6 separate regions of the Homo sapiens genome follow, and regions 1, 2, 3, 4 and 5 are each reported to be linked to region 6. The links are microRNA targets in miRTarBase. Many come from high-throughput screens and were not tested one by one. Region 6 holds a microRNA gene; each other region holds the end of a gene's coding sequence.

Region 1 (4,088 bases), not on the chromosome of region 6:
GTTTGTTTGTTTTTGAGACAGAGTCTTGCTCTGTCACCCAGGCTGGAGTGCAGTGGCGCGAGCTCGCTCAGCTCACTGCAACCTCCGCCTCTCGGGTTCAAGCAGTTCTGTTCTTTGTTATGTGTTGTCTGTCCCCATCTGCATCCCCAGAGGGATTGGCAGCAGCACCTTTGATGTAAGAATAGTCAGTGGGCTTGCTGTCTTTGGGTCCTCAGAGAAATGGGGAGGTGAGGAGATGAACTACCCCCTCCACAGTCTGGACAGTGCATTTCTGGAGGGGTGGAGGGAGTGAGGAGCATGGACAGCCCAGCGCTGGGACTGCAATGAGGACTGGAGGAGAAGAACGTAGGAAACAGTTGAAGGAAGCATGAGGAGCTCCCAGAGGGGCCCGGAAACTTGGTACACAGGTTGCATCAATCAATAAATCAACCAATGCAAAGATATCTAACTCTGAGACTTAGAACCATTCATTCATTCATTCATTTGATCAACAAAATTTTAGTGCCATCTGTGCTGTGCCAGGCACTATATGGGGCAATGTTCTGGATGGAGATGATTCAGACCAGTGTCACTCCCAAGCCACTTAAGGCCTGGTGGGGAAGGATCTCAGAGTATGTGATGAAGGGCACATTTTGTGAAGGATGGGTTCTTCAAGCCCATCTTGCAAGGGTTGGGAAAACCTTCATCAGGGATGTTGGGGGGAGTATTGTGGCAGGGGGGAAAGCCACAAGTAAAATGCTGAGTTTGGAAAGTACACAGAGGCATTTTTGGGGAATAGTAAGTGGATGGCCAATGTGTGGGTGAGGAATGAGAGTTAGGACCACAGAGATTGGCTGGGCCACCTTGTGGAACACCTCCCATGTCAAGATAAGGGGTTTCTGTAGGTGGCTTACTGTGTGTCTGGCATGAGGTAGGCACTTCACATGCATCTGTTAACTGTCCTGCAAGGTTGTTATCCCCATCTTACAGGTGGAAGGCCAGGCTCTGAAGGGCTAGGTGACTTGCCAAATGCAGCACAGGCAAGTCACCGAGCCAGGATTTGAGCGCTAAAAGCTGAGCTTTGGAAAAATGCAACCAGAATCAAGTTGAAGGTGGGGAAATGATCGTGCAGCTTGGTCCAGCAGGGAAGAAAACTAAAAAATGTTGATTGGACTTGATTCAGGACCCTGTGGGTCTAAGCTCTTCAAACCCTCAAGTCTGGTCCATGAGGCGGCATCAAATGCGTAGGTGGCCCCAGCTGCTGCTTTTGCTAGTTGTCTTCCCTGGGACACCTTTAAACATGCATACAAGGAAGAAAACAAAGAATTGGTCTGAGCTGCTAAGAGCGGGGCCATCCAAACCATTCCCTTTTAGAGGCCATTCCAGATTCTAGGAAGGCAGCAAAAACAGTAACTGAATGCTGCTTCTGGGGACCCTGCTGACTCTAACCAAGAACCATGGCTCAACCCCACTTCTCCTGCGCTAGGCTAAGATCCAGGACATAATCAGTGATGCTAGAAACACGTCCGTTTCGGAGGGAAGAGGTTTGGGAGGACTGGAAAGGGCCCTGGGGCTAGAAGTCAGGAAACCCCATCCTGACTTGCTGAGTGGCCTCGGGAGAGACTCTTCCCTTCTCTCAGCCTGTCCCCTTCTCTGTAAACGAAAGGGAGTCCAGCTCTTTGTTATCTGACATCCTAAGTGTATATGCAGAACTCTTAAAATGTATCTAGCCCTGTGCCTTCCAAATCACTCCCCTACCCTCAAGGATAGAAATGTGGCCAGCCATTGTGGGGATGAGGAGGAGCTCCAAGGCCAGGCCAGGCCAGCCACATCCAGGGTGAGAGGAGATGCCCCAAGAGTGGAAGGAAGCATTCATCCTATGAAACGAAGACAAGGGAACTAACTTGCTCAGCTCTGTCCTGGCTCCTTGGCACCCATTACCCCTGGGAATCATCATATCTCCATGTGGCAATGGCTTATCACCCCAAGTTTTACACTGAGGAAACTGAGACTCAGAGAGGGTGACTCTCCCGAATTCACATGCCTAGGAAGTGAAAACCCCAGGATGTGAACTGGATCAACTCCAAAGCCCATACTCTTGCCACTCTGTCGCACAAACTGTGTATGAAATGAGATAGGAAAACCTCCCTCACTCCCACCTCCCTCCAAGCAAAGCATCTCGTCCACCCAGGTGCCTGAATTTCTACCATTAGCGCATTGCCTCCCTGGGCTAAGGCCTCTCTCCATGGGCTCCACAGTGGGGAAGGGGCGCAGAAGTAGGAGGCAGAGGCAGGAGGTGAGCACAAGGTCTTTTATGAGGCATCAAATATACATTCTTATATACAAGGAGGAAAAAAGACAATGCCTGAACCCCAGCTCCTCTCCATACAGCCCCTCCCACTGCCACCCTCCCCCGCCCCCAAGCCCCAGTGGCCCTGGCCCTTCGTACAGCCAGGGTCCATCTGTCTGTCTATACTGCAGCCCATGGTGGAGAGGGGAGAGGGAGGCAGGAGCTGAGTGAGGAGCTGGATATGCGGGGCAAGAAGAGGAGCTGGGGCTTGTAAAAAATATATTTATAATAAATAAACAGGGCTGCAAAAGGGCTGGAGAGGCAGCGGAGATTCTGACGGACAGAAGGACTCAGGCATTCTGGCTCCCAACCCCAGCTCTGATGGCTTCAATCTCTGCCTCAGGAAGGATATCTTGGGCTCATGGTGGCCCTTTGGGAGCCTCTCTCCCCAGGGCTGATGCTGGGTGCCCCTGCCCCAGCGAGGTGTGTGTGGGTGATATCTGTAAAGTGCATTGTCTTCAGTTGTAGGTGGGGTAGGTGTAAGGGAATGGCGGGGGGGCATGCAATATGGGTGAGGGAGGGCAGTGCCCTTCTCATCCCAGACCTGAGCCCCCCCCAAAACCTGTCTGGACTTTGATCAGGATAAGAACGTTGCAGGGCGAGGCAAGTTCCTGAAGCCGAAGAGGTCTGGGCTGGGGCCTACTGGAGAAAGGGCATAGACTGGCTCGAGAGAGGAAGCACTGCCCCACGTGGGGCCAACACAAGCAGGGTCCCACCCACCAAGTGCATCAATGGTCCGTGTCCTCCAGCAGGCAAAAAGACACATGGAAGTGTGTGGCCAGGCCCTGAGGTCAGAGAGAGGGCCAAGCCAGCTGAAGTTTGGCCACAACTCTACAGAGCGCTCTCCTAGCCCCACACGGCCAGAGGAGCCCCAGGGAAGCCTTCACCCCGACAGCTCCGGACACCTGCCCTTCTCCGCCAGCCAGAGCTCACAGAGAGCTCACACAGGCCCAGAGGTCTGAGGCCACAGAGCTAGACCTCCAGGGAAAAGTGGGGAAGAAGAAGACGGGAGAAAGAGTACGAGGATCTCTGGAAGGCCCTCACCACTCCCCAGCGCTGGAGCACCCTGAGTCCAGGCTTCAAGTGGCAAGGATCCTCGAATCTGGAAGGAAACCCCATGGCAACTGCTGGGGGTGAGAGGACGGGTCCCAAGGCAGGGAGGACATGGGGAGGAGGACATTGCTATGTGTATATATATTTTTGAAAAAACCGAGGAAGCAAAGAGGGTGCAAGGTCCCTCTCCTGTGGCTCCCCAGACTTTCCTGTTCCCCAGCTCACTCTCTCCATTCATCAGACCACGGTGCTGATCCGGCTTGGCTTGGCCTTGGGGTTTGCACTGGGGGGGTTGGCTGTGCCAGGGGGCCCAGAGGCGTGCAGCGGGCCATGGGGGGAGGTGGGTGGAAGGGGTGAGTGCGGGGTGTGAGGGGAGGGTGGGGGGAGGGGTGGATAGGAGGGGTGGGGTGGGATGGGTGAGTGTGGTGACAATGGTGACTGGGGGTGGTGGGGGTGGGAGTAGGAGCCCCCTGGTGGCCGGGATCCAGGGCCCCCAGCCGCGCCTGCTGCTGGCATCATCTGTGGGTGGTGGCTGAAGATGAAGTGCTTAGGGCCCTGTTTGTGGGCTGGAGGGTGCTGGGGGGCAGGACTGTACAGGGGCAGTGGGGATGTGGGCTGGTGCAGGGGGTGGCGGCCATGTGGAGCAAACTGAGGGTGTCCTCCAGCCCCCCGTCTGGGTGCCCTGCCTGGCCGGCCCAAGGTATAG
Region 2 (4,000 bases), not on the chromosome of region 6:
ATGTGAGAACTAAAGGTTCTTATTTGGGGGATTTGGGATGTTCCCTTCTATGTTAGTTCTGTAAGATGGAAATTCTTTGCTCTGGACCTCACAGAGCACTGTACCTCCCTGAGATGCTTAGGACATCAGAGAAATTAACAGAAAAGCTAGAGCCTCCAATCAGAAAAGATCACAAACAACAGAAATGCCCCCACATAATAAAGAGTGCTTGTATTAGGATACAGTAGCAAAATCACCCCCACATCACAGTGGTTTATTCTGACCAAAGCATTTATTTTCATTCCATTTACATAGGAGGTGGCATTGTAGAAAATAAAAACTTTCTCAAAGAGATATGAATTAAAGAAAAGTTAGAGTAAGGTGAATACTTATTTAAACATACCTTTAGAGTGAGGGTAAGCCCCCTTCCCAACCCAAAATGAACTGAATGAGAGAGAAAAAGAGGTCCAGAGTAGTTTGTGGAGCGATGTTTCCATCTCTAATGCCACTCAGCTCAGGAGCAGGCTTCAGACACTGCCTTTATCTTTACAGAAAGCCATGGGAAGGGAAATGTCTGAGGTAGAGCTCAGCGTTGGGCATCATATGGCTAATCACTCAGAGGTCACTAATCACTCTCCCTTTTCTTGTTTTTCAGTGAACGAGATAATTGGGAGAGACATGTCCCAGATTTCTGTTTCCCAAGGAGCAGGGGTGAGCAGGCAGGCTCCCCTCCCGAGTCCTGAGTCCCTGGATTTAGGAAGATCTGATGGGCTCTAACAGTGCTTACTGCAGCCTTGTGTCCACCACCAACTTCTCAGCATGTTTCTCTCCTTGGACCTTGGGTTTCCAACTCTGCAGCCTTCAGGTCTGGGGCCAGGAGTGGGACCCACCATTTGTGGGGAAAGTAGCATTCCTCCACCTCAGGCCTTGGGTAGATTTGGCAAAAGAACAGGAGCAGCATAGGCTGTTTGAGCTTTGGGGAAATGAACTTTGCTTTTTATATTTAACTAGGATACTTTTATATGATGGGTGCTTTGAGTGTGAATGCAGCAGGCTCTCTTGTTTCCGAGGTGCTGCTTTTGCAGGTGACCTGGTTACTTAGCTAGGATTGGTGATTTGTACTGCTTTATGGTCATTTGAAGGGCCCTTTAGTTTTTATGATAATTTTTAAAATAGGAACTTTTGATAAGACCTTCTAGAAGCAAAAAAAAAAAAAAAAAAAAAAAAAAGAAAAAAAAAGAAAAGAAAAAAAGAAAAAGAAAAAAATATCCCAAGCCCACACCTATGCCTCAGAAAGTCAGCATGTGTCCTGAAGACGTTCATAGATTTATAGGAAATAAAGCCAAATGTAGCTCATACCTCTTTATAAAACTAAACTGTTGTTAGATAAAATGAGAAGAGACCATTCCATCATTGAAGTGTTGGAATATAAAAAGACATTCCAGAGCATAGCCTTTTGGTAACTTTCTAGGTAATCTTGCAATCTCTCCATACTGGCTCCATGTTGAAATTGCTTTTTCCCTCAGGACCCTGGGTAAGATGGCTACATTTAAGGTGACTCTGAATGGTGGGGTTCTAGCTTGGTCACTTTCATTTCTTGCCATCATAAAAACTAGTAGGCTGTGGAGTGCGCTTCCTGTTTGTGTCATCTGGTCGTAGAACCTTTTCCAAACAGAAGCATCTGCCTTTGGCTGTTCTGTGACCTTTGAAGCCAGTCTCAGTGGTTTAGGCAGCTTTGCAGTTCTAACTCTAGCTAGAGGCCAGGCTGTGTGCAGAGCTAAAGCACAAATGAGCAGTACATCAGCATGGGCAGAGAAAATACAGGACTCCAGATGGGAAGGTTTTAAGAGTCACACTGGCATGGAAGGCTTATCTGCCATTCTATTTATAGCCTGAAATGATTCTGGCCTACCCTGTCCTGTCTGTATGATCTAAAAACCAGCCTTTTCCCCAGAAGGCTCTGAGCACATCCAGAAGTGATAACCTGACCCTCCACACCAAAGACACCCTGGTGCTGCTGCTGGTGAGACTGGTGTCCAAGGCAGGGCCCAGCAGAAACTGCAGCCTGCTGTCTACCAAAGGAGGTACCCGAGTTGGGTACTTTAAAAAAAAAAAAAACCTGCCCTTACCCCTCTCCCTAATGGGATTTTTTTTACCTGTTCCTGGGCCCATTACAGAGCCTCTGAAGTTTGCAGTATGCTTTCAAATGAAATAATATACTTCCATTGATTCAGGAAGCAGATTTTTTGAGTGCCTATATGTGAGACAGTGTGCTGGTTGAAGGCCTGATGCTGTTATTCCAGGAGACTGCAGGCCCTTGATGCCAGGACTCTCTCTACTAAGGCCAGTTCAGGTCTGGGAAAGGGAGCTGGCCTATTGCCCACCACCTGTTGTCAGTAGGTTAGGAGCTGTTGACTCAGGATGAGGAAGTATGGTCTTTAAAAAAAACAAAATATATTTTAGATTTCTCCCCTAAAGTTAGTTAGAGAAAAAGGTCTATTCTTCAGCAGATCACTGTGGCCCCTCTTGGAGCTGGGTGTTTTCAAATTTTCTTGAAAAGTGAGTTGTGTCACAGAATGTGGATAGTGAGATTTGCTTCTGGGCCTGTGGTTGGACGCCCACAGCTTCCTTTGGAGGGGCAAGAAGTTGGCCTCTCGGTTGACATTCCAGAGAAATGGCCAGACTTGCCCCTACCCTTTTGCCCCTGGTGTAGCTGCCTCACATGAGGTTATTGCAAGAGTTCCCCTTGCAATACCCTTTGTGCCCTCAAGAATTAAAAGCCTCTATGATCCAGAGTTGCTATGCACCAAATTTTGATGCCTTCTAAATACCTTGATGCCTGTAGCACTAGAAATGCTTTCCTATTTAAAATAAACATTAAATTTTAAAATAGAGCTTTGTATACTATGTAAGCAGTTTTATATCAGCTTTGTAAAAGCTTTGGTGTTAAGAGTCAATATTTTTTGGCTTTGTAGATAAAGACTTAAATTTTTGTGCAACATAGTGGTGTTAAAGCACACATCCATTGGACTATGCAAATCAATTTCTACTAGCAGCACTGAGCAACTGGGCACGTGCTAGTACGCACCCCCTCCTACTCTAACTGTGCTAGCTCTTGGGTTGAGGAATGGAATGGGTAGCCTTCTGCTTACTGGAGATGCACAGAGAAACATGGCTGAAAACAGCTTTAAAAAGAACATGTCTTTGGGTTCATGTGTGGTGCTGCTGCCCGGGTGTAAACTATCCCCACCCAGGGCCAGCCATTATCACCAGACCTCTTCTGGGCCTGGCTGTGAAGCCCTGTTTTTGGTATTCAGAATGGATCTTTAAGGCTCAGATGGGCTCAAATTGAAACCTTGTGTTTTATAAAATGGATGTTTAGTAAAGGAACTGGTTCTCAGTTATGTTTACAGCACTTGGAATTGTGTGTTCTTGTACATTTTGTATTTTAAAACCTTTTATGGGAGTGCAGTGCTCCTTACACAAATACAAAGGGAAGAAGAGCCAGCAGTTGAGGCTCCTCAGTTTTAGTGCTGAAATAATAAACAGTGACAGGTCAACAGTATCCTTAATCTGTCTGAGTGTTCCTCCGCCTGGGGTTGGTGTGGAGCCCCTCACTTTGGGGCAAAGTTAAGGGTCCTGTGTCTTTTAAAAAGTCCATTTGGTCAATAACTTTTCATTTAAGGAAGAGAAGATCGAGTTCCAAATTGCTTCCGAGGCTTCAGTTCTGTACCATTTAATGCGTGCAAAGGACATTCCATGGTGTCTGCTGGGTTCAGGGCAACTGGCTTTCCCAAGGCATACAAGAAAAGTTGGCAGAAAGTCCTCCCCTTTAAAATTCAAGCCTGAAGGTTTTGTGTGGGGGCCTACTGCCCCCTAATGTCTTCTGGTGATACTGCAGCACAGTCCATCAAAATAGTTTGTGGTTTTGCCATCTGTTACTCCTTATGCCCACCTGGAGAGGGGCTAGCATCTTTAGGTGGGACCACCCCTGGCACAACATGGTCTCTGAGGTCCAGAT
Region 3 (4,103 bases), not on the chromosome of region 6:
TGGGTTGAAACAGAAGTGACACTAAGTGAAAAGCAAGTTAAATTAGAAGAGGATCAGGGCAGGGAAGAAGAATCCAAAAGGTTTCCCAGAGACAGGCAGGAGAATCGACAGGCTGCTTTGTCATAGATGCTGAGGGAGGGAAGGTCGAGGAAAGAAAGAGAGTCAGTGATGAAAGCTGCCCCGAGGATGAGCAGGAGGAGCCCTTGGAAGGGCCCCCCTCTGTTTGATAATCAACAAATCTTTCCCCATCATAGGAAAATAAAAGAATGAAGCAATGCCTGGAAGAAGAACTGAAATCAAGAAGGGACCTAGAAAAGCTGGTGCGGAGGCTTTTGAAGCAAACAGATGAGTGTATTCGAGGCGAGTCCAGTAGCAAGACCTCAATTCTTCCATAACCATCACTGTGCCACTGGGTGGAGTGTGCCTTCAGGGCATCTTGAAATGTCCCGCTGAATGATTTGACTCAGTTTGCTCACTTCTTTGGCTTTTGTTTTGTGTTTGAGTCTCTCTCTCTCTCTCCCTCTCTCTTCTCTTTCTCTCCCCGCTGTGTGCATATGTGTGTGCGTGCACGTGCGCGCTTGGGCATTTGCTGTTGTTTGGTTATTGGTTGGTTGTTCATTTTTTTTTTCAACAGGTGAAAAAGCAGGAAGTGGTGGTAGAGATGGCCTCAGAGTCTTTTCCATTCAGTAAGAAAGAGAAAGGGAATGCAGGCCAGTTACTTAAAAGGTCTTCAGATTGCCTTCAGTTCACAGTGCCTCTGCAACAGCCATTGCCCTCAGGTCACATTCTTTGGGCTGGCTGCCCTTGCAAAGCAGCTGGCCAAGGCTTATTAAATGTGAACCCAACTTTTCCCCAGGGCTTTCCTGTACCTGCAAGCCTCTTAGTACTTAATTTACCGAAGGCAAATCTTCCAGACTATGGCTTGAGTAGGATGAAAGACAAACACATCTGCCCAATGATCCAGCTGCCCTTCCTTAGACCATCACATGCCTCCCCTCAATCACAGGTTTTAAAATTACTGCCCTATGTTGTCTATAAGACCAAGAAAACTGTAGTACCCTTATTCCTTTTGTGTCATGTAAATTGTAACTCAGGGGGGCAGAAGCTCTGGTCACCCACACCAACACCAAATCCATCAGCAAATTCTACTGGACAATCCTCCCTTTTAGTAGCAGAGTTGACCGCCTTTTCCCATTGCATGATAGGTTTCTTTCCCTCATTCTGCCTAGTGTGTAAGTTTTCTATTTCCCCAGTACTTTTAGCCAACCTTACCAAGTGGTGTGTAAACTAGTATGTATGTGCTTTGCTTACTTTTTAAAAAAATGTAGTTAGACTGTGAGGAGTTACTTTATGTACGTTGCATATTCAAACTGTGATGTTTTATCCTTCAAAACAATCTGCATTAAGAAGATATTGTGCCCTACTAGACAGCTTTCATTCACTTTATTACTCTCTCATATATGCTGTGAGAAGTTGTAATATTAATTGGCCTCTTTGGGTGGGACTCTAAGCAGTATTTGCAGAAATATGCTTCTGGTCCAACTTGTACATCCAGAACAAAAGGGCCCCTCTAGTAGCTGTGTGCTGGATTATTCAGGACTGATTAACTCAAGTTGCTCATTGAATCACATCATCCACTTTATCCCAGAAACTAGAACTGTGAGAAACCAGGTTTAGAAGACAGTCACAGAACAGCACACATCCAAATTCAGCGCCATTGAAAGTTGGCCTAAGGCTCAGTGCCACTCACCCCTCCCTCCCCAAAAGACAAGAGAAATTTGGCCAGATGGGGAAGGTCACTGGAAATTGAGGCCAAAGGGCTGATCAGAATTGCCTTTATAATATATTTGATGGATGCCTATAAATGTGGGTTTTGCAAATATTGTTTAAAAACCAAACTTGAAGCCAGGCATGGTGGCCCACACCTGTGGTCCCAGCTACTCAGGAGGCTGAGGTGGGAGGATCATTTGAGCCCAGGAGGTCAAGGCTGCAGTGAGCTGTGATGACACCACTGCACTCCAACCTAGGTAACAGAGAGACACCTCTGTCTCTGAAAAAACAAAACTTGAAGTTTGAAACCCCCAGCTTGCTGAGGAGCCCTTTTTATTTTTGGTACTGAGAGTCTCAAGGTCCCATAGCTACATGGTACAGGGCTGTTGTCTGCTTGCTGCACAGCAGAAATTACACCATCCACAGGAAATGGACTATTTTTGCAGTCCAACATCAGCCAACCACACACAGCCGTGTTTGGAAGCTGAAGAGTAAAGAAATTTCTAGGAATGGCTGTTGTTCTGTTTTTTAGCACAGCCATTTAGATATAACATCCTTCACTTAAAAATTAAAAACATCAGTACTACCACCACCACCAACAACATCAACACAGATCTTCACATCTGCCCATTCTGTGGTTAGTCAATGGCTTGCAATAAATGTGCAAACTGCATCTATAGGAAACATTTTTGTGATTACGGAATACTTTAGTTGATTGCTGAAAATATTGAAAGGTCTTCATTTTACAGTGATGAGTACATATGCATGTTTCGGGGACTTGGCCCTTCTGATGAGGGGCCCTCGGTACTCTGGATAACGAAGCTTGTGCAGAGTGGTAACCATGCTTACACACTAAACTATAATATAAAGGAAATGAAGCCATGTTAATCTGAGAGCAGTGTCGCCATAGTTGTGTTGTTTACAATACTCTATAAATGGGTTCCTGTTGCCCTGTAATTAAACTGCTGCCCGTAGAGGCCTTTCAGTTCCTTTTCTGTCCTTCCCCTTCTTAACACAAGCTCAAATTTTCTAACTTGTTTTTATTTTGAAGACTTTTAAAATGGACATTTTCAATACATAAAAATAAACAGTGCTTTATAAAAATAAGTCTTTTGCTTCTTTTTTTGCTAGCCGGTGTGCAGAAAGATTTCTTGTGCTGTGTCAGCTTCCTCTCCCATTTCCCTCATTAGCTAGTCTGCTCTCACCAAGCCCTCTAGCCAGTCTCAACCTTTTTCACTCAGGGCAGATGACATTTGCTCCCAACTTTACAGAGATAATACATGCCCTGAGACAGAACCTTCCTTAACTTCTCTACCTCTCTTCTTCTGGCCCAAACCTATAAATTATATCCCTGCTCACCATCTGCTTTTTGATATTAGAGAAAAATGTATTTTCCTGCTCAAGCTTATCCCTTGATATTTATTCCTGTCCTGATTCCTCTTTGAATTTGGCAGGATTTTGTCAATCAGTGATAATCCTATATTTTGACCACAGTTGGAATGCTGGTGTCAGCACTCAGGATGGAAATATTCGTTCCACTTAAAGATTGATGAGGTGGAAATTATCTGCTGCTCCACATGCATTCCTACCCCTTTTCTGTTTCTTTCCAAAAACATAAAGGCTGAAAAATCAATTTCCCAGACTCCCTTGCAGCTAGGGTTCTGGATAAAATGTGGGTTCAGATACATGTTCACTTCTGCCAACAAAATTTGGAAGGCTTAAGTTGGGCAGAGGCTATCTTCTTGGGGTTTGGTGGCCAGCAGGTGATTCCAAAGATGTGTTTGTGGCTTCTGTACTCCACATTCCAGTGTGTCTATTCACAGCTTTGTGAGTGAGAGACTGTAGTGGTGGCAGCAGCCTCCTAACATGTGGATCACAACTGCAATGATATGACCTTGAAGCCATTAGTCCAGTGGCAGCCTCCTGACTTCCCCTGACTTCCACTTATGTAGCCCAATGGTTTTGTAGACAACTGATTATCTTTCTGCCTGAGATACCTTCAGTGGTTTATGATTCCTGCTCTGAGCCAATAGATAGAACATGGCATCTCATGTGTGCTAGGCACTGTACTAAGTGGTTTACACGATTAAGCTCATGTAAGCCTCACAACAACCTTATTAAGTATTTACTATTGTTATCTCCACTTACAAATGAACAGAGGCACAGAGATGTTGAGTAACTTGCTAGTACATGGTGGAGCTGGAATTTGAAACCTTAGTCTGTCTGACTCTTGGACCCATGCTCTCTCTATCACGTATCCTCCTGCACACTTGGTACATGCTAAGGTTCCTACCTTAGCCATCCACCTTTGTGAAGTCACTATTAAGCTTATA
Region 4 (4,103 bases), not on the chromosome of region 6:
TCTCCTGCCTCAGCCTCCGAAGTAGCTGGGACTACAGGTGCGCACCACCACGCCCAGCTAATTTTTGTATTTTTAGTAGAGATGGGGTTTCTGCATGTTGGCCAGGATGTTCTCGAACTCCTGGCCCTCAAGTGATCCTCCCACTTCAGCCTCCCAAAGTGCTGGGATTACAGGCATGAGCCACTGCACGCGGCCTCTAGAAAGTTACTTTGAACCCTACTAGTAAATTTGAGTTGCTGACATCTAAGCTGTAAGAACACATTGTCTTATTGCTGAAAGTATTATAGGATGGACCCCAAATTCTGAAGTCACTGGGATTTGGAATCTCCTAATGCCTTCTAACCTCTCATTCAGGCCTGTGATCTTGGACCCAGCCGAACCCACAGGTGACGTGGGTGGAGGGGACCGTTGGTGTTGGCATCTTCTGGCAAAAGAAGCAAAGGAATGGTTATCCTCTCCCTGCTTCAAGGATGGGACTGGAAACCCAATACCACCTTGGAAAGTGCCGGTAAAAGTCATCTAAAGGAGGCGTTGTCTGGAAATAGCCCTGTAACAGGCTTGAATCAAAGAACTTCTCCTACTGTAGCAACCTGAAATTAACTCAGACACAAATAAAGGAAACCCAGCTCACAGGAGCTTAAACAGCTGGTCAGCCCCCTAAGCCCCCACTACAAGTGATCCTCAGGCAGGTAACCCCAGATTCATGCACTGTAGGGTGCTGCGCAGCATCCCTAGTCTCTACCCAGTAGATGCCACTAGCCCTCCTCTCCCAGTGACAACCAAAAGTCTTCAGACATTGTCAAACGTTCCCCTGGGTTCACAGATCTTTCTGCCTTTGGCTTTTGGCTCCACCCTCTTTAGCTGTTAATTTGAGTACTTATGGCCCTGAAAGCGGCCACGGTGCCTCCAGATGGCAGGTTTGCAATCCAAGCAGGAAGAAGGAAAAGATACCCAAAGGTCAAGAACACAGTGATTTTATTAGAAGTTTCATCCGCAAATTTTCTTCCATTTCATTGCTCAGAAATGTCATGTGGCTACCTGTAACTTGAAGGTGGCTACAAAGATGACTGTGGACGTGGGTTGCACTGGCCACCCAAGGATGTCTGCCACACCTCTCCAAAGCCCTCCCTACCTACCAAGATATACCTGATATATTCCACCAGGATATCCTCCCTCCAGATATACTTGGTTCTCTCCACCAGGTTCTTTCTTTAAAGCAGGATTTCTCAACTTTGATACTTACTCACATTTGGGGCTAGACAGTTCTTTGTTTGGAGGCTCTCTTGTGCATTGTAGGATGTTGAGCAGCATCTCTGGCCTGTACCCAGTAGATGCCACCCAGTTGTGACAATTAAAAGTGTCTTGAGACTTTATCATGTGTCTTCTGCCCTAGGTGAGAACCCTTGCACTAGAGGAACCCTACACCCCAACCCTGGGGGGAATGTAGGGAAGAGGTGGCCAAGCCAACCGTGGGGTTAGCTCTAATTATTAAGATATGCATTATAAATAAATACCAAAAAATTGTCTCTGGCAATAGTTACCTTCCCAGATACAGGTCCCCCCTTTTTTCCCCTAACTCTTTTAAGCAATGATTGTAACTATTAGGAGACATTGCTCTCCCACGTATGTTTTTCTTTTTAGACAATGCAGACACCAGGAAGTTGTGGAGCTAGGATCCATCCTATTGTCAATGAGATGTTCTCATCCAGAAGCCATAGAATCCTGAATAATAATTCTAAAAGAAACTTCTAGAGATCATCTGGCAATCGCTTTTAAAGACTCGGCTCACCGTGAGAAAGAGTCACTCACATCCATTCTTCCCTTGATGGTCCCTATTCCTCCTTCCCTTGCTTCTTGGACTTCTTGAAATCAATCAAGACTGCAAACCCTTTCATAAAGTCTTGCCTTGCTGAACTCCCTCTCTGCAGGCAGCCTGCCTTTAAAAATAGTTGCTGTCATCCACTTTATGTGCATCTTATTTCTGTCAACTTGTATTTTTTTTCTTGTATTTTTCCAATTAGCTCCTCCTTTTTCCTTCCAGTCTAAAAAAGGAATCCTCTGTGTCTTCAAAGCAAAGCTCTTTACTTTCCCCTTGGTTCTCATAACTCTGTGATCTTGCTCTCGGTGCTTCCAACTCATCCACGTCCTGTCTGTTTCCTCTGTATACAAAACCCTTTCTGCCCCTGCTGACACAGACATCCTCTATGCCAGCAGCCAGCCAACCCTTTCATTAGAACTTCAAGCTCTCCAAAGGCTCAGATTATAACTGTTGTCATATTTATATGAGGCTGTTGTCTTTTCCTTCTGAGCCTGCCTTTCTCCCCCCCACCCAGGAGTATCCTCTTGCCAAATCAAAAGACTTTTTCCTTGGGCTTTAGCCTTAAAGATACTTGAAGGTCTAGGTGCTTTAACCTCACATACCCTCACTTAAACTTTTATCACTGTTGCATATACCAGTTGTGATACAATAAAGAATGTATCTGGATTTTGTGCCTAGTTCCTAGCACACAGCTTCAAAAATTCTAGAGTTTCCTGATAGGAGTGTCTTTTGTATTCATAACAAGCCCTTTTCACCCATGCCTGGGTTTATGCTAACAAGGTTACCCATGGTGGGCCCTTAGTTTCAAGGAAGGAGTTGGCCAAGCCAGAAAGACCAAGCATGTGGTTAAAGCATTGGAATTTTCAGCCCCATCCCACCCCCAATCTCCAAGGAGGTGATGGGGCTGGAAATTGAGTTCAATTTTAACATGGCCAGTGATTTAAGCAATGCTGCCTATGTAAAGAAACCCCAATAAAAACTCTGGACAGTGAGGCTTGGGGAGCTTCCTGATTGGCAGACATTCCAATGTACTAGGAAGGTAGCGCATCTTGATTCCACAGGGACAAAGGCTCCTGAGCTCTGGGCCCTTCCAGTGCTTGCCACCCTACATACTCTTTGTCTGGCTCTTCATTTGTATTCTTTATAATAAAATGGTGATTGTAAGTAGAGCATTTTCCTGAGTTCTATGAGTCATTCTGCAAATTATCAAAACTGAAGGAAAGTCATGGAAACTCCCAAGTTTGTAACCAAGTCGGACAGAGGTGTGGGTAGCCTGGGGACCCCATGTATGGCTGGAGTCTGAAAGAAGGGTGGACTTGGTGAGGACCTTGCTCTTTAAATTGTGGGATCTACACACATTCCAGGTAGTCAGTGCCAGACTTGACTTAAATTGCAGGACAGTCAGCTGGTGTCACAGATTAGGTGTTGGAATGCACCACTACTCTTGTCCAGGATGCAGGCAAAAGAAATATATATGAAGATGTTGAAAAATGGAAGAATACAGGAAACAAGCATGAGAAGAAAAGGCAAAAATAATTTTTAAAAAGTTTTTTAAATGATAAAAAACATTTAATGAAAGAATGACCACTTTAAGTACACATCTACTCAGTCTACAACTAGTTACCAGGGCCTTCTGGATGCCCAAACTTGCACTAGATACATAGGCAGGAAACACGGAAGCAGAAACTGTGAGACGCTGTCCCCATCCTCACAGGGCTTGGCTGGAGGAACTGGAACACATAGCCCTAAATCCCTTAAAGAAAAATGAAGGGCCAGGCTTGATGGCTCACACCAGTAATCCCAGCACTTTGGGAGGCCGAGGCAGACAGATCACTAGAGATTAAGAGTTTGAGACCAGCCTGGACAACATGATGAAACTCCACCTCTACTAAAACTACAAAAAATTAGCTGGGCATGGTTGCAGATGCCTGCAATCCCAGCTACCCAGGAGGCTGAGACAGGAGAATTACTTAAGCCTGGGAGGCGGAGGTTGCAGTGAGCCGAGATCGCGCCACTGTACTCCAGCCTGGGCAACAAAGTGAGGCTCCGTCTCAAAAAAAAAAAAAAAGAAAAGAAAAGAAAAGAAAAATGAAGGGCAGTTTACCACACGTGCCAAGTGAGATGTATATGATGAGAAAGACCATAAAGAAAAAGGTGAGCTGCTCAAAGCCATACAAATGCAGAACAGGACCATTTCAGTTTTTCTCATCAATGTCTTCTCAGCACTCAGTAGACATTTAAACTCATTAAGAGCAAAGAGAATAAAATGTTCACAGTAATCAAG
Region 5 (4,087 bases), not on the chromosome of region 6:
GCGATGTCGCACTTCCTTTGGCGACAAAGCCCTGCATATCGCGGTGCCAAGCCCCCTCCCCCGCCCCGGGGCCCAGGCCGGCCTCCCAAATTCTCCTGAACTGAAGAGATCCAGGTCCGGCGTGCTGAGAACGAGGCCAGACCAGGGGGTCTTACGGGACCCCATCCCCACCCCAGACGATTTCCGGGGGGAGCCGCAACCCGGAAATGAATGAGTTGTCAGGGCTTGGTATCCTGGATGGGGTCAGGGGTCGGAGAAGGAGTGGCAGTGGGATCAGCAGGAAGCTCTCGGTAGGGTCCGGGGGTCGAAGGTCACAGGTGAGTGGGAGGGGCGGGCCGGACCTGAGGGGACCGGGCAGAACGGAGAGGGGCCTAGGGGGATACTAGAGGTGGGTGGGACCACAGCGCCATTTTGTCTAGCAGAGGGGGAGTGGGGGCCTGGAGGCCATCCTCACCATCTTCTGTTTCCTCCGTCGCCGCCTCGGCCGCCGCCTCAGCCTCCACCGCCGCCACCAGAGCCGCCTTCTTAGCCGCCGCCTCACAGTAACTTCCAGCCACGGCACAGCCCACACTGATGGCGCCACCACCTCCCTGTCATTGGTGTGCAGTCTAGCCCCGCCCCCACATAGGAGCGCTTTGCACGCTTCCATTGGCCGCATCCAGCTAACTCATGCGCCCATTGGTTGCCACGCCTCCTCCCATTGTGGTCAAGTTCGGTTGAAGAAGCAAAGCACCTCCCGGTACTTGGAAGCAATGAAAGTGAGATCCGGAAGTGGGCGGAGGCCTCGGCCGCGAAGTCTCTTGGGAGCTGTAGTTTACAGCTCCGCGAGGCTCTCTAGAGCTTTTGTGTGTCTGTGTGTTTTTAAGATGCGAGGTTCGGCCGGGTGCGGTGGCTCACTCCTGTAATCTTAGCACTTTGGGAGGCCGAGGCGGGTAGATCGCCTGAGGTCAGCAGTTCGAGACCAGCCTGGCCAGCATGGTGAAACCCCATCTCTGCGCCTGTAATTCCAGCTAGTAGGGAGGCTGAGGCAGGAGAATCACTTGAACCCGGGAGGCGGAGGTTGCAGTGAGCCAAGATCGTGCCATTGCACTCCAGCCTGGGCAACAAGAGCGAAAATCAGTCTCAAAAAAAAAAAAAAAAAGCCAGCCGGGCGCAGTGGCTCACGCCTGTAATCCCAGCACTTTGGGAGGCCGACGCGGGTGGATCACGAGGTCAGGAGATCGAGACCGTCCTGGCTAACACGGTGAAACCACGTCTCTACTAAAAATACAAAAAATTAGCCGGGCGTGGTGGCGGACGCCTGTAGTCCCAGCTACTCCGGAGGCCGAAGCAGGACAACGGCGTGAACCGTGAGTGAGGCGGATCTTGCAGTGAGCTGAGATCGCGCCACTGCACTCCAGCCTGGCGGACAGAGGGAGACTCTGTCTCAAAAAAAAAAAGGCGGGGCACGGTGGCTCACGCCTGTAATCCCAGCAATCCCAGCACTTTGGGAAGCCGAGGCGGGCGGATCACGAGGTCAGGAGTTTGAGACCAGCCTGGCCAACATGGTGAAACCCCATCTCTACTAAAATACAAAAATTAGCCGGGCGTGGTGGCGGGCGCCTGTCATCCCAGCTACTCAAGAGGCTGAGGCAGGAGAATCGCTTAAAACCAGAAGGCGGAGGTGTCAGTCAGCCGAGATTAAGCCACTACAGTCCAGTCTGGGCAACAAGAGCTAAACTCCCTCTCAAAAGAAAAAAAAAAAAAAGACACAGGGGTCTTGCTATGTTTCCCAAGCTGGTCTCGAACTTCTGGCCTCAAGCAATCCTCCAGACTTGGCTTCCCAAAGTTCTGGGAGCCATCGTGCCGGCATCTTCTTGTGTTTATTACGTTTTTAAAGCAGCCCTAGAAGATAAGAACCATAACACTCCCTAGCTCCTCCTCGACACCGTCTTGCTCAACCACCTCCCGTAACTCCCTAGTATTCAATCCCACCTCCTTGGCCCCATTTATGGGCACCTGCGGTCTTCATTGCCCACCTGTGTCCTCACCTCTAACCAATTCCTTCTATGTCTGGGCTCTCCCAGACCTTGCCATTTCCTCCAAGACTTCCCTGACTGCATTCTTCAAAAAGGCAAGTCAGGTACCTTCCCTGAAGTCCTACAGCCCTCACAATCCCCCTCCCAGCCCTGACACCTCTGTGTCCAAACTGCCTTCCTGACTTCCAGGGCAAAGAATGGGCACCCAGCACACAGCAATTGCACAGTGAAGTTGCTAAGTGGAAGCTACTAAGTATTATTACTCCAACAGCAACAGAGCAGAGGAGAAACCAGCACTGCATTTTATAGGCGACAAATGCACCTCACAGTGTTAAATTCTTGCTCAAAATCAAACATCCCCAAGGGACAAGTGGAAGATTCAAACTCCTTATGGGCTGGAGTTCAAGACCAGCCTGGTCAACATGGTGAAACTCCCCTCTACTAAAAATACATAAATTAGCTGGGCGTGGTGGCATGCACCTGTAATCCCAGCTACTTGGGAGGCTGAGGCACCAGAATTGCTTGAACCCAGGAGGCAGAGGTTGCAGTAAGCAGGGATCCGACAACTGCACTCCAGCCTGGGTGACAGAGCGAGACCCTGTTTCAAAAACAAACACCCCCCCGCACACACACACAGTTTTCCACCAGTCTTCCCAGACCTATAAAATTTATGACACAGGCTGGGCATGACGGCTCACACCTGTAATCCCAGCACTTTGGGAGGCCGAGGCAGGCAGATCACCTGAGGTCAGGAGTTCGAGACCAGCCTGGCCAACATGGTTGAAACCCCGTCTCTACTAAAAATACAAAAATTAGCCGGGTGTGGTGGTGGGCGCCTATAATCCCAGCTATTCGGGAGGCTGAGGCAGGAGATTGCTTGAACCCAGGAGAGGGAGTTTGCAGTGAGCCGAGATCGTGCCACTGCACTCCAGCCTGGGGGACAGAGCGCAGTGGTTCATGCCTGTAATCCCAGCACTTTGGGAGGCAGAGGAGGGCGGATCACCTGAGGTCGGGAGCTCGAGACCAGCCTGACCAACATGGAGAAACCCCATCTCTACTAAAAATACAAAATTAGCCGGGCGTGGTGGCGCATGCCTGTAATCCCAGCTACTCGGGAGGGTGAGGCAGGAGAATCGCTTGAACCCGCAAGGCGGAGGTTTTAATGAGCCGAGATCCCCCCATTGCACTCCAACCTGGGCAACAAAAGGGAAACTGTCTCAAAAAAAAAAAAGAGTTATGACACATATAAGGCAAGTGGAACTTTGAACATTTATTACACGTTTAATAATATTTCAAAATTATTGATAATTCTTTTGGATGTGATAAGCTTTGTAATTGTCTTTTAATGAGCTCTCATCTTGGAGAGATACATTCTGAAATATTTACAGAAGAAATAATCCGATGCCTGAGATCAGCTTCAAAAGAACTCAGGATGGGGCAGGGACGGGTTGTAGGTAGTCGGTAGTCAGGGTACTGGGTACACGGATGTTCTTTGTACTGTTCTTTGGTCTGTTGCGCAGGTTCGAAATGCTTCCTAATTAAAAAGCCTAAAAAGGGACTTGGCAAGCTCCCATCCAGACTTCAACCCCACAATATGGAGAGCACTCAGGTCCGAGGCGTTCCTGCTCCCCAGCTCCCTGCAAAAATAGCGCCAGGCAAGGTCCGAGGCGAGGGCGATGCTTCCATGAGGGTCCCGCCGACTGCGTCGCGATCCTCAATGGCTCAGCGACTTGCGGCCCTTGAGCATTCGGCGAAGGATGACCTGCACGCCGGCCGGCGTGCTCAGGCGCCGGACCCAGCCGTGCTTGTTCTTGCGTTTGATGTTGCTCGGCTGATACTCATTCCCGCGAGCCTTGCCCCGGGCCTGCTGCGGGGTGGGGAGGCCCCAGGCGTCTGGGAACCCCAGCCAGGCCCGGGGCTGGAGCCACCTGCGTGGGTAGAGGGACGGCGAGAAAGGTCAGACGGGGCGCTGGGTGACCTTGGCGCTCAACCTCTCTGAGCCTCGGCTCCCGGAGACAGAGCCTGGCTGCAAAATGCGCAAGGCACTGGCAGGTCACGCGGGCAGTGAA
Region 6 (4,103 bases):
TGATCCCAGCATCCCACGTGTGCCTGCTCGGGGTGGCCAGCTCACTGCTTCTTCACCTCTAGCCCAACCAGCAGGTGCCCCACCATGAGCCCCTCCAGGCTCACCTTGCCCATCCCTGCCATGTGACCTGGGACTCTTGAGATGAGATCACAGCTGCAGAGCACACAGCACAGGGAGGAGCTCATCAGCATCTTCCCACCTGTGGTGCCCTGGCCCAGCCTCCTTCCGGTTGGGGTTGGACCCGCCCTGGCAGCCAGGTTTTGCGTCACCTGCCCCACCCGCCCTGTAACCTACTTGCCCAACTGCTATCCCGGTGGCCGTGAGGCCAGTTGACAGAATGGAGAGGGGTAAGCATTTTCCGCCTGGAGAGGATGGGCGTGTGGCCATCTGACTGCTTCTGCAAGCCTGGTGGTTGTGTGCAGGCTGCCCTGGTGGTCTTAGCCCCTTGGGGCAGGCGGGGTCCTGTGCAGGATGCAGAGACTGGGCGTGGCTTCCTGCAGATGTTCAGATGCTTCTGGGCTGTGGCCTCTGAGACCCAGGGCAAGGCTGCTGACTGGACCCCAGACCCTCCTGCCTGCCTCTTCCTCCAGCTGCTCTTTGTGGTCTGGTTCTGGCCGCCTGGGCCTCAGGGCCAACCCTGCATGGCTTTGACCACTCTGGCCTTCTTGGACTGCCAAGGACATGCTGAGAGTTGGTTGGGCTTGGCCCAAGTGCTGAGCCCAGGGCAGGGGTGGGGACAGGCAGGGCGGAGCCTCACCTGGAAAGCCAGGCACGATTCTCCCTGGGACACCAACCCTCCTGTAGAGTTGGCCAATTCGGGCAACCTTGAGGGCGAGCTCTGTGTGGCACAAGAGATGCCCTGAGGAGCCCAGCCTCACCTGGTGTGATGGGACCTGTGGAAGTTGTGGGAAGTGGTCCTGGCCACCCGTGTGCCCACATGCCCTGCGCCCAGATCAAGATATGGTGACCAAAAGGACAAGGACTATATCCATGGCTCCCTCCCAGAGCCTGGCAAGTCAGCAGGCATGAGAGGGTGTTGGAATGCTGTGGTGGGCCTGTGTGGGGACCTTGTAGGACCTAGGGAACCTGCAGGGCTTGGCTTAGGGAGCACACAGGGGCCCAGGCAAAGGCAAGGTCACAGGTCGGGGGAGGTGAAGCTGGCAGGGGGAGGGGGAGACCTGCTGGCTAGAGCTGGGTTGGGGGCCGGTGGGCAGTGGGCCTGGCTCGAGCAGGGGGCGAGGGATTGGAGAGAAAGGCAGTTCCTGATGGTCCCCTCCCCAGGGGCTGGCTTTCCTCTGGTCCTTCCCTCCCAATGACCGCGTCTTCGTCGAGGCCACAGCCCTTGGCTCTGCGCCCACACCTCCAGTGCCAGGCTGTCCGGAGATCTGTTTATGGCCTTCCCTTGGACCATGGAGCCCTCCCTGCCACTGGTGCCTGGAGGGCTGGTCTGCTGCCCCTGCACCCTGGCCAGCTAGGATGGTGGGGTCCTGCAGCTGAACTGGGGGTGCCTTTCTGCCTGTCTGTCCTACGTGTATCAGTGGCCAGAACTGCCCTCATCCATGGCCTTGCCAGCAGCTGGGCGTGCAGCCCAGGGAGGGCTGAGGTCGGCTGAAGTTGATTGAGACCAACGGCCTTCTCTAACACCCCAGAGGAGCATGTCCCTGGTGAGCAGGCCTTGGGCAGCCCTGGGCTCCAGGCCAGTGGGATTCCAGTAGAGACCAGCTGGCAGGGCTTCTCCAGTGACTGCAGCCAGGGGTTCTCATGTGCAGGAAAGACCAGCTCCTCCAGAGTAAAGGGACTTGTGTCTTCTGGCCACATGGTGAGTGCTGGGCCCACCCCATCAGTGGCACCTTGGGTGCACTCCCAAAGCCCAGCGTGTTCCCCATCTTCCTGCACTGCATTCGGGATGGTTCTGCATCATCAGCTGCACCTGATTGCTCTTAAACCCACAGCTGAGCTTTAATGTGCAGTCACTGAAGCTTTCATTTCTAAAATAGCTTCCTAAGAGTTCTTTTGGCCAGGCATGGTGGCTCATGCCTGTAATCCTAACACTTTGGGAGGCCGAGGTGGGTGGATCACCTGAGGTCAGGAGTTGGAGACCAGCCTGACCAACATGGAGAAACCCCGTCTCCACTAAAAATACAAAATTAGCTGGGCGTGGTGGCGCATGCCTGTAATCCCAGCTACTCGGGAGGCTGAGGCAGGAGAATTGCTTGAACTCGGGGGGCGGAGGTTGCGGTGAGCCGAGATTATGCCAGCCAGCCTGGGCAACAGGAGCAAAAACAAAACAACAACAACAAAAAAAAACCGAGTTCCTTTTGCTGCTTTGTAAACCCAGTTTGCTCTTCATCACTTCCTTTGCCCTGCAGATGTTTCTGAGCTGTCTGTTTTCTTTCTGCCATCAGAGCATGGTTGGTTGATGATGCATGTACGGTTATCTTTCTGCTGGTTCTTGCTCATGGTGCTTCTTTCATTATGTGGTTCTTTCTGACTATGTACTGCTTCTGGTCTTTGAAAAATGATTTTGAGACTTCTTTGAAGTATAGGATGAAGGTATCTTTCTCCAGAGAGAACTTCAGGCACAGGGGCACTACGAGTGCTGGAACCCCTTAAAACTGTGCTTGGCTTGTGGGTCCTTGTACCCCCAGTGTGGACCTGGACGGCTGGCTGTGCCACAGCTTCTCAGAAACTTCCCTTCACTTATGTGCAATGTCCCCATAACCCCTGGGGGTGGCTGCGGCTGTAGTTCATCTCTCCCTAAGCATCGCTCTTTGGAGTCCCAGCCTAACTTAGAGGAGAGTCTTCTGTTAGGTTCTTCATCCTGTGGGGGTGACTGGACCTTGTCTTCTGTCTCCTTCGCCCCCGAGGCCACCAGAGTATGAGCCCCAGTGTGTTCAGTGGGCAAACGCTCTCAGGCAGGATTGGCCACTGTGTTCTGCTGTCCTCTGTGGGCCACGCTCTCCGAACTGTTGGCCAAATGCTGCATGAGCTCATCAGCTCCTGGCAATTTTTAAGATGTTTTCATATTTCATCCAGCATCTTGAGTTGTTTTTACCAAAAGGATTGCCCCTAGTAGCCTGCCCACCCTCGGATGATGGCCCCCTGTGGGCGCTTCCAGGGCACCCGGCAAGGGGACCCAACCCACTTCCAGCCCCACAGTCTGCTTCCCACAGGGCCCCCTTGCAACAACACACCCTTTAGCTTCCCATCCTATGCAGAGTGGTGGCCAGCAGACCATCTCAAATGGCTGCCCATCCCCCTGACCCAGTGCGTCTGCACGTGGCGCTTATTGCTATCCCAATACTTCAACTGCACAGCCACCAGCTCCTCACTGGAGCAGATGGTCCCCAATGGCCATCCCTAATGCCCGTGCCTATGGAGGCACATACACTGAGCCCTCTTCACCTCCGTCCCCACTCATTAGACTTTTCTCAGAGGAATCTTTTTGGGTCTCTTCAGTATTTGAACAGCTTCTTGGCTGTCCCATGTCCCAGCTGTGAGCACTGGCTCTGCCCTGGAGCCGTGTCACTAAATCATTGCACATGTGCACATTTCAGGGAACTTGGGTGTCACCCTTGGGTGGCCTCGGAATCTAATCTCCGTTCTGCACTCGTTTGCATTGTGGAAAACTGCCTGCTCTGGGCCCCAGAGGTCCCTGGGTGGGGACGAGGTGTATGCTAAGTGTGCAGTCACCCAGCGTGTCCCCGGCACGTGTCCATGCCAGCTGCTGTGGGTGTGTGGGGCCTTCGGGTCCTGTGGGATGGCGAGTGTGTGTGCTGAGCAGGACCTGTAGGGCCTGCATCCCAGGTGAGTGGGCCATGCTGTTGGAGGCGGAGGCAGGGCTGCCCCCACTGGTGGCGTGTGGGGTGGGTTTGGTGCTGTTGCAGGGGAGGAGATGTGCATGTGGGGGACAGTCTTGAAGGAAGAATGTATACAGTGGTCTATTTCCAAGACAAAGTGTCTTAAATTGGCTTAGCTCAGCAAACTACAGAAGAAACAGGATATACTAGGCCACCCTGCTTGGATAGCTGATGTGTGCTTGTCGGCCTCCACTTTCCCCGCACTTAGTTGCCTTCACCCGAACCAAAGAAGTTCAGTCTAAG

Evidence for each region. The annotated mature microRNA hsa-miR-185-5p reads UGGAGAGAAAGGCAGUUCCUGA and lies in region 6 at 1,245-1,266, shown strand. An mRNA with a match to its seed (bases 2 to 7 or 8) in the 3' UTR can be bound and repressed. Matches are read on the target gene's strand: a 7mer-m8 pairs with bases 2 to 8, a 7mer-A1 pairs with bases 2 to 7 and ends in A, and an 8mer does both.
Region 1: the mRNA of IQSEC2 is a reported target of hsa-miR-185-5p. Seed matches in the 3' UTR shown: 7mer-A1 at 2,584-2,590 and 7mer-A1 at 2,468-2,474.
Region 2: the mRNA of NFATC3 is a reported target of hsa-miR-185-5p. Seed matches in the 3' UTR shown: 7mer-m8 at 804-810 and 8mer at 1,463-1,470.
Region 3: miRTarBase lists ARHGEF6 as a target of hsa-miR-185-5p. Seed matches in the 3' UTR shown: 7mer-m8 at 514-520 and 7mer-m8 at 535-541.
Region 4: miRTarBase lists OAS2 as a target of hsa-miR-185-5p. Seed matches in the 3' UTR shown: 7mer-A1 at 1,113-1,119, 8mer at 1,191-1,198 and 7mer-A1 at 2,244-2,250.
Region 5: miRTarBase lists MRPL34 as a target of hsa-miR-185-5p. Seed matches in the 3' UTR shown: 7mer-A1 at 3,614-3,620 and 8mer at 3,378-3,385.

What each region holds. Positions count from the first base shown.
Region 1 is chrX:53,230,600-53,234,687 of GRCh38, forward strand. It overlaps IQSEC2 (IQ motif and Sec7 domain ArfGEF 2), which reads right to left. Exons shown (of 15, transcript NM_001111125.3): 15 at 2,277-4,088. The coding sequence ends at 3,620. Among named protein-coding and RNA genes, the nearest start is that of KDM5C, 7.4 kb to the left of the region's middle.
Region 2 is chr16:68,225,716-68,229,715 of GRCh38, forward strand. It overlaps NFATC3 (nuclear factor of activated T cells 3), which reads left to right. Exons shown (of 10, transcript NM_173165.3): 10 at 635-3,544. The coding sequence ends at 756. It overlaps ESRP2 (epithelial splicing regulatory protein 2), which reads right to left. Exons shown (of 15, transcript NM_024939.3): 15 at 3,318-4,000. Among named protein-coding and RNA genes, the nearest start is that of MIR6773, 5.8 kb to the right of the region's middle. RefSeq lists an enhancer at 1,722-1,771.
Region 3 is chrX:136,664,321-136,668,423 of GRCh38, reverse strand. It overlaps ARHGEF6 (Rac/Cdc42 guanine nucleotide exchange factor 6), which reads left to right. Exons shown (of 22, transcript NM_004840.3): 22 at 255-2,874. The coding sequence ends at 395. Among named protein-coding and RNA genes, the nearest start is that of CD40LG, 18 kb to the right of the region's middle. RefSeq lists an enhancer at 2,050-2,139.
Region 4 is chr12:113,008,733-113,012,835 of GRCh38, forward strand. OAS2 (2'-5'-oligoadenylate synthetase 2) reads left to right here. Exons shown (of 10, transcript NM_002535.3): 10 at 355-2,991. The coding sequence ends at 523. Among named protein-coding and RNA genes, the nearest start is that of OAS2, 32 kb to the left of the region's middle. RefSeq lists an enhancer at 950-1,119.
Region 5 is chr19:17,306,025-17,310,111 of GRCh38, reverse strand. MRPL34 (mitochondrial ribosomal protein L34) reads right to left here. Exons shown (of 2, transcript NM_023937.4): 2 at 3,269-3,946. The coding sequence ends at 3,733. It overlaps DDA1 (DET1 and DDB1 associated 1), which reads right to left and starts at 549. Exons shown (of 5, transcript NM_024050.6): 1 at 455-549. The coding sequence starts at 457. RefSeq lists silencers at 234-333, 3,927-3,986 and enhancers at 121-684, 774-963, 685-1,246.
Region 6 is chr22:20,031,909-20,036,011 of GRCh38, forward strand. MIR185 (microRNA 185) reads left to right here and starts at 1,231; the gene lies at 1,231-1,312. The region is part of intron 1 of TANGO2 (transport and golgi organization 2 homolog); the gene reads left to right. RefSeq lists enhancers at 376-595, 2,279-2,348.